2 linked regions of the Homo sapiens genome follow. The protein of the gene in region 1 interacts with the protein of each later gene in a biochemical or structural test. Each region holds a gene or a part of one and is shown on either strand. Other genes may lie near its edges.

Evidence for each region. Proteins that work in one complex are often made in the same cells at the same time.
Region 2: of the proteins of TGFB1 (region 1) and MMP2, one has a biochemical effect on the other in vitro, tested with the Homo sapiens proteins (one study listed by BioGRID).

The regions. Positions count from the first base shown.
Region 1 is NC_000019.10:41,329,772-41,333,609, reverse strand, and holds the end of TGFB1 (transforming growth factor beta-1 proprotein preproprotein), read left to right. Parts: intron 1-1,328; coding exon 1,329-1,482; intron 1,483-2,399; coding exon 2,400-2,558; 3' UTR 2,559-3,287; downstream 3,288-3,838. UniProt on the Homo sapiens protein: Transforming growth factor beta-1 proprotein: Precursor of the Latency-associated peptide (LAP) and Transforming growth factor beta-1 (TGF-beta-1) chains, which constitute the regulatory and active subunit of TGF-beta-1, respectively.
Region 2 is NC_000016.10:55,477,698-55,481,297, forward strand, and holds the start of MMP2 (72 kDa type IV collagenase isoform 1 preproprotein), read left to right. Parts: upstream 1-1,500; 5' UTR 1,501-1,782; coding exon 1,783-1,935; intron 1,936-2,300; exon of another isoform or gene 2,301-2,358; intron 2,359-2,835; exon of another isoform or gene 2,836-2,900; intron 2,901-3,600.

The sequences.
Region 1 (3,838 bases):
AGGCGTGCGGATCGTTTGAGCCCAAGTTCGACACCAGCCTCAGCAACATAGTGAGACCGTGTCTCTAAAAAGAATAACAAATTAAAAAGAATAAATAGGCCAGATGCAGTGGCTCAGGTCTGTAATACCAGCACTTTGGGAGGCTGAGGTGGGCGGATCACAAGGTCAGGAGTTCGAGACCAGCCTGGCCAACATGGTGAAACCCTGTCTCTACTAAAAAGACAAAAAAATTAGCCGGGCATGGTGGCACACGCCTGTAATCCCAGCTACTCGGAAGGCTGAGGCAGGAGAATCGCTTGAACCTGGGAGGCGGAGGTTGCAGTGAGCCGAGATCATGCCACTGCACTCCAGCCTGGCAGACAGAGTGAGACTCTGTCTCAAAAAAAAAAAAAAAAAAAAATAGAAAAAAAAAGAAGAAATGAAGTGAAGGAACAAGCTGGAGTGGGTATCTGTGGGACTAGCAAGGCAGGCAGAGGGAACAGCAGATGCAGGAGCCCCGAAATAAGACTGTCTGAGGAACAGACAGGACGCCAGTGTGGCTGGAGTGGAGTAGGCGTGAGAGAGGGAGTTGAGATCAGCCAGATTTGATAGCACCTTGTGGCTCACGGTGAGGACTTGGGCATTTGCCGTGAGATGGAGCCAGGTTCAGAGCAGAGGAGTGACAAGACAATTTATAGCATGCCCATGGAGGGCAGAGATTTCTGTCTCTTTTTTAAAAAAATTGAAAAAAAATTTTGTAGAGACAGGGTCTTGCACTTTGTTGTCCAGGCTGGCATGCAGTGGTGTTATCATAGTTCACTGCAACCTCGAACTCCTCGACTCCAGCGATCCTCCCACTTCATCCTCCCAAAGTGCTGGGATTAAAGGTGTGAGCCACCATGCCTAGCCTATTTCTATCTGTTTCATTTGTCCTCAGTCCACAGTAGATCCCAGCCCAGCACACAGTAGTAGTTCAATAAACATTTGTTGCACAAATAGAGCAGATCAGTTTACATGGAGCTGTGTTATTTTGTATGTTCCAGGGTGTGGCATGCCATGATTTATTTAGCCCCCCCGTGGATGGTCATCTGGCTTCTTACAGGCTTGTCTTAAGCATTGCGTGAAATTAATTATTACATTGCTCTTAGCACTGGAGGAAGTGCTTAATCTGTGTTAGTGATTATCATGACTATTTGTGTTGTTATTAACACAGTGGGTGCAAGGGAGACCCAGATGGAGATAGGGCTGGGGGGGCAACCTAGGGTGACACACGCACCTGGGGAGGAGGGGCATGTGGCTTCTATGGTGGTAGCCCCTCCCTGCCCCTGACGCGTCTCTCCTGCCTGCAGCTCCACGGAGAAGAACTGCTGCGTGCGGCAGCTGTACATTGACTTCCGCAAGGACCTCGGCTGGAAGTGGATCCACGAGCCCAAGGGCTACCATGCCAACTTCTGCCTCGGGCCCTGCCCCTACATTTGGAGCCTGGACACGCAGTACAGCAAGGTACGTCTGGCCCACCGGGCTACGAGATGCGCTTGGGGGGAGCCAGGACGGAGGAAGAGGAGAGAGAAAGAGAAGTAAAGTCAGAGAGGTGAGTTGGCAGGATGGGGAGAAAGAGAGGGATGGGGTGGGGAGGGGAATGAATAAAGAGATGGGGAGAGAGGCAGGAAGCTAGAGAGGGGCTCTGAGCAGGGGCCAGAGGGAGATGAGCTATGAAGACCCACAGAGTGAAGTAACAGAGGGATGGGGGTGAAGGGGAGAAGAGAGACAGGGAGATGGAAGGAAAAACGCAGAAATGGAGAGACAAAATGAGAGAGACAGATACAGACACAGAGTTAGGCCAAGGAGAGACAAAGACAGATACACAACAAGGCAAGAGGCGAAGATGAGGAGGGACAGAGACTGAGAAAGAAAATCAGGCGGGCGCGGCGGCTCACGATGGTAATACCAACACTTTGGGACGCTGAAGCAGGAGGATCGCTTGAGCCCAGGAGTTCGAGAGTAGCCCAGGCAGCAGACTGAGATCCCATCTCTACCAAAAAAAAAAAAAAAAAAAAAAAAAAAGCTAGGAGTGGTGGCGCTTGCCTGTGGTTGGAGCTACTCCGGAGGCTGAGGCGGGAGGATGGCTTGCGCTCAGGAGGTTGAGGCTGCAGCGAGCCATGATCGTGCCACTATACTCCAGCCTGGGTGGCAGAGCGAGACCCAGTCTCAAAACAAAAAGAAAATCAGACAGGTGGGGAGAGACAGAATAAGATAGGATGTTAGAAGATAAGAGAGACCGAATTGGAGATGGGAAGAGGGGATGCGGGGAGAGACGAAGTGAGAGAGGCTGGCGCGGTAGCGGGTGGGGGATGGGGCAGTGGAGGGCCGTTTTCCTCCCTCCACGAGCCCTGAGCCCTGACCCCGCCCGCCGCCCGCAGGTCCTGGCCCTGTACAACCAGCATAACCCGGGCGCCTCGGCGGCGCCGTGCTGCGTGCCGCAGGCGCTGGAGCCGCTGCCCATCGTGTACTACGTGGGCCGCAAGCCCAAGGTGGAGCAGCTGTCCAACATGATCGTGCGCTCCTGCAAGTGCAGCTGAGGTCCCGCCCCGCCCCGCCCCGCCCCGGCAGGCCCGGCCCCACCCCGCCCCGCCCCCGCTGCCTTGCCCATGGGGGCTGTATTTAAGGACACCCGTGCCCCAAGCCCACCTGGGGCCCCATTAAAGATGGAGAGAGGACTGCGGATCTCTGTGTCATTGGGCGCCTGCCTGGGGTCTCCATCCCTGACGTTCCCCCACTCCCACTCCCTCTCTCTCCCTCTCTGCCTCCTCCTGCCTGTCTGCACTATTCCTTTGCCCGGCATCAAGGCACAGGGGACCAGTGGGGAACACTACTGTAGTTAGATCTATTTATTGAGCACCTTGGGCACTGTTGAAGTGCCTTACATTAATGAACTCATTCAGTCACCATAGCAACACTCTGAGATGCAGGGACTCTGATAACACCCATTTTAAAGGTGAGGAAACAAGCCCAGAGAGGTTAAGGGAGGAGTTCCTGCCCACCAGGAACCTGCTTTAGTGGGGGATAGTGAAGAAGACAATAAAAGATAGTAGTTCAGGCCAGGCGGGGTGGCTCACGCCTGTAATCCTAGCACTTTTGGGAGGCAGAGATGGGAGGATTACTTGAATCCAGGCATTTGAGACCAGCCTGGGTAACATAGTGAGACCCTATCTCTACAAAACACTTTTAAAAAATGTACACCTGTGGTCCCAGCTACTCTGGAGGCTAAGGTGGGAGGATCACTTGATCCTGGGAGGTCAAGGCTGCAGTGAGCCCTGACTGTGCCACTGTATGCCAGCCTGGGTGACAAAGCAAGACTCCATCTTTTTTTTATGTTTTTTTTTTGAGACGGATTTTCACTCTTGTTGCCCAGGCTGGAGTGCAATGTCGAGATCTTGGCTCACCACAACCTCTGCCTCCCGGGTTTAAGCGATTCTCCTGCCTCAGCCTCCCAAGTAGCTGGGTAGCTGGGATTACAGGCATGCGCCACCATGCTCGGCTAATTTTGTATTTTTTTTTAGTAGAGACGAAGTTTCACCATGTTGTTCAGGCTGGTCTCGAACTTCTGACCTGAGGTGATCCGCCCGCCTCGGCCTCCCAAAATGCTGAGATTACAAGCATGAGCCAGCGCACCCAGCCAAGACTGCATCTTTAAAAAAAAAAAAAAAAAAAGACTGGGCACGGTGGCTCACACCTGCAATCCCAGCACTTTGGGAGGCTGAGGCAGGGGGATCACTTGAGGTCAGGAGTTTGAGACCAGCCTGGACCACATGGTGAAACCCTGTCTCTACTAAAATACAAAAAAAGGCTGGGCGCAGTG
Region 2 (3,600 bases), on another chromosome or scaffold:
CCCTGCTGACCCCCAGTCCTATCTGCCCCCTTCCTAGGCTGGTCCTTACTGACCCCTCCAGCTCCATCCCCTCACCCTGTGCCCCACCTTTTTCAGATAGAAAAAACTTTCTTCTCCAGTGCCTCTTGCTGTTTTTCATCTCTGGGCCATTGTCAATGTTCCCTAAAACATTCCCCATATTCCCCACCCAGCACTCCACCTCTTTAGCTCTTCAGGTCTCAGCTCAGAAGTCACTTCTTCCAGGAAGCCTTCCTTGATTGTCTTTACTAGTTTAGGGGCTGAAGTCAGGCGTTCCCAACAGCCTGCTGGAGTTCCCCATCACAGCTTATCTCTCAACTGTCTTTCCTGAGAGAGGGAGAAGACATTCCTCAGAGACGGTTGTCACAGGGAGAACTTCAAAATTGGGATTCGACCTGAGAGGCCACATGGATTCTTGGCTTGGCGCAGGAAAGGATTCAAGAGTGAGTGGGGAATTCGTGGAACTGAGGGCTCCTCCCCTTTTTAGACCATATAGGGTAAACCTCCCCACATTGCCATGGCATTTATAAACTGCCATGGCACTGGTGGGTGCTTCCTTTAACATGCTAATGCATTATAATTAGCGTAAAATGAGCAGTGAGGATGACCAGAGGTCGCTTTCTTTGCCATCTTGGTTTTGGCTGGCTTCTTCACTGCATACTGTTTTATCAGTGGGGTCTTTGTGACCTCTATCTTATTAAACCAGTCTTGCCCAATTTCTATCTCATCCTGTGACCGAGAATGCGGACCCTCCTGGGAGTGCAGCCCAGCAGGTCTCAGCCTCATTTTACCCAGCCCCCTGTTCAAGATGGAGTCGCTCTGGTTCCAACGTCTCTAACGCGGGGCCCCTGACTGCTCTATTTCCCAAGGTGTATCTAGCATCTCGCACTATACGAGGCCAAGTTAAGGCTTACACATTTGCAGAAGGAAAGAGGTAAGGAAGCAACCTGGGACCTTCCACTGTCTCTGTTTCCATCTCTCTCTTTCCATCTCTGTTCATCCCAGAATCTCTCTGTCCCTATCCCTAAATATCGAAAATTTCTGTCTCTGACCATCTATCATTGTGGCTGATCATCTGTTTCTGACCATTCCTTCCCGTTCCTGACCCCAGGGAGTGCAGGGTGTCCTAGCCAAGCCGGCGTCCCTCCTAGTAGTACCGCTGCTCTCTAACCTCAGGACGTCAAGGGCCTAGAGCGACAGATGTTTCCCAGCAGGGGGTTCTGAGGCTGTGCGCCCAGATCGCGAGAGAGGCAAGTGGGGTGACGAGGTCGTGCACTGAGGGTGGACGTAGAGGCCAGGAGTAGCAGGCGGCCGGGGAAAAGAGGTGGAGAAAGGAAAAAAGAGGAGAAAAGTGGAGGAGGGCGAGTAGGGGGGTGGGGCAGAGAGGGGCGGGCCCGAGTGCGCCCCCCGCCCCCAGCCCCGCTCTGCCAGCTCCCTCCCAGCCCAGCCGGCTACATCTGGCGGCTGCCCTCCCTTGTTTCCGCTGCATCCAGACTTCCTCAGGCGGTGGCTGGAGGCTGCGCATCTGGGGCTTTAAACATACAAAGGGATTGCCAGGACCTGCGGCGGCGGCGGCGGCGGCGGGGGCTGGGGCGCGGGGGCCGGACCATGAGCCGCTGAGCCGGGCAAACCCCAGGCCACCGAGCCAGCGGACCCTCGGAGCGCAGCCCTGCGCCGCGGAGCAGGCTCCAACCAGGCGGCGAGGCGGCCACACGCACCGAGCCAGCGACCCCCGGGCGACGCGCGGGGCCAGGGAGCGCTACGATGGAGGCGCTAATGGCCCGGGGCGCGCTCACGGGTCCCCTGAGGGCGCTCTGTCTCCTGGGCTGCCTGCTGAGCCACGCCGCCGCCGCGCCGTCGCCCATCATCAAGTTCCCCGGCGATGTCGCCCCCAAAACGGACAAAGAGTTGGCAGTGGTGAGTTGCTGCGCTGGCCTCAAGGAACCACGTTTAGACAAACTTCGGAGGCAAAGGATGGGGGTGTCTCTCCCCCTGCCCTCGGCGGTGGGCACACAGCGTGGGGGAGGGGCTTCGGTAAACAGCTTGGGGGGTCTTTGGCAAGCTATTGGAGTGATCTCTTGCAAACGGTGGGGGATCTTTTGTAAGCAAAGAAAACCTTTGATAAACAATTTGGCAACCTTCAGCATACAGCAGTGGGGCGAAAAACAAGCCAGAGAGTGGGAGAGGGGTGACCTGGCAAACTACTGGAAAGGGACTCTTATGTAAATAGCGGGGACATCCTCTAGTATCTGGGACATTTGGCGGGGGGGGGGGGCGGTCTTTGTAAACAACTTTTGGACACATCTGGGCAGTTGCTAAGGGCTCTTGCCAAGCGTCTAGGTAAGCCTTTGGCAAACAGCTACAGGGGTCGTTTTTGCTAATGTAGGACTTTGGGAACGGTGCTCTGGCACACAATTTGGGTAAACTTATGCGCGCATAAGGATGGGAGGGAGCTTGGTCAAAGCGGGGCTTGGCAAATTTCTAGGAACCTTCGGCACAGATCCGGAGAGGGACCTTTAAACAAACAGCTCGAGGGGGCCATTTGGGAAGTGATTGGGGCAGGAGGGAAGCAGAGAGCGCATCTTTTTTCTCCTGGCTTAATGGACAAATTGGTCAAGGGCTGGGCCTCGGAAAGTTTCCTCGAACTTCTCCAAAGGGTCGGAGAAAAGAAGGAGAGAGCTGGCCCGGCAGGAGGGAGGAGGAGTGGGGCAGGCGCTGGAGGGCCCGGCGCGTGGGGCGGGGGCGGACTGCGCTCCGCTCGGGTCGGAGAGCGGCCAGAGAGCCCTCCTTCCTGGCTGGGCTCCCAAACCGCGGTTCAGATGTTGTCTTGTGAGCGTGCGCGCGCCTGGCTGGAGGGGCACTGAGCCTGGCCGCAGTGTTGCGTAAGTAGGGCCTGAGGAGAGAGGCAGGCCAGGGACCCATCAAGATGTCCTTTCCAGTCCAGGGGATATCTGCTCCCTTGTTGCTTCAGCCACCCTGCCCTCCAGCCTCCCCCTCAACCTGTCCGGGAGAAGACGCCCATGCCCTCTGGTCACCCTAGGAACTCCTTCAGGAGGTGACAACTACCCTCTCCCAACTCTCACCCTTCCAAACAGCTAGGTCTCAGCCCCCTCTGGATAGATGGGTTGGGAAACCTCCATACATTTTTAGAGGGCTACTTTTTTCAAGGATCTGGAGCTGGCTGGCATAATGATGTGGCTGTTGGGTGGGGGTGAGAGTGGAGCTTTGGGACAATGACAAAGCTACTTGGTTTCCTACACCTTTTCCAGCCAATGGGTCACAGGATGAACCCCTAAATTGGGGTTCAGCCTGGGGGCCACATGGGTTCTTGGCTTGCACAGGAAGGAATTCAAGAGCGAGCCAACAGAGTAAAGTGAAAACAAATTTATTAAGAAGGTAAAGGAATAAAAGGGTGATTATTCCATAGACAGAGCAGGGAATGGGCTGCTGGACTGAGTATACATATGGTTATTTCTTGATTATATGCTAAACAAGGGGTGGATTATTTAAGAGTTTTCCAGAAAAAGGGTGGGGAGTTCCTGGAACCGAGGGTTTCTCTCCCTTTTAGACCATATAGGGTAA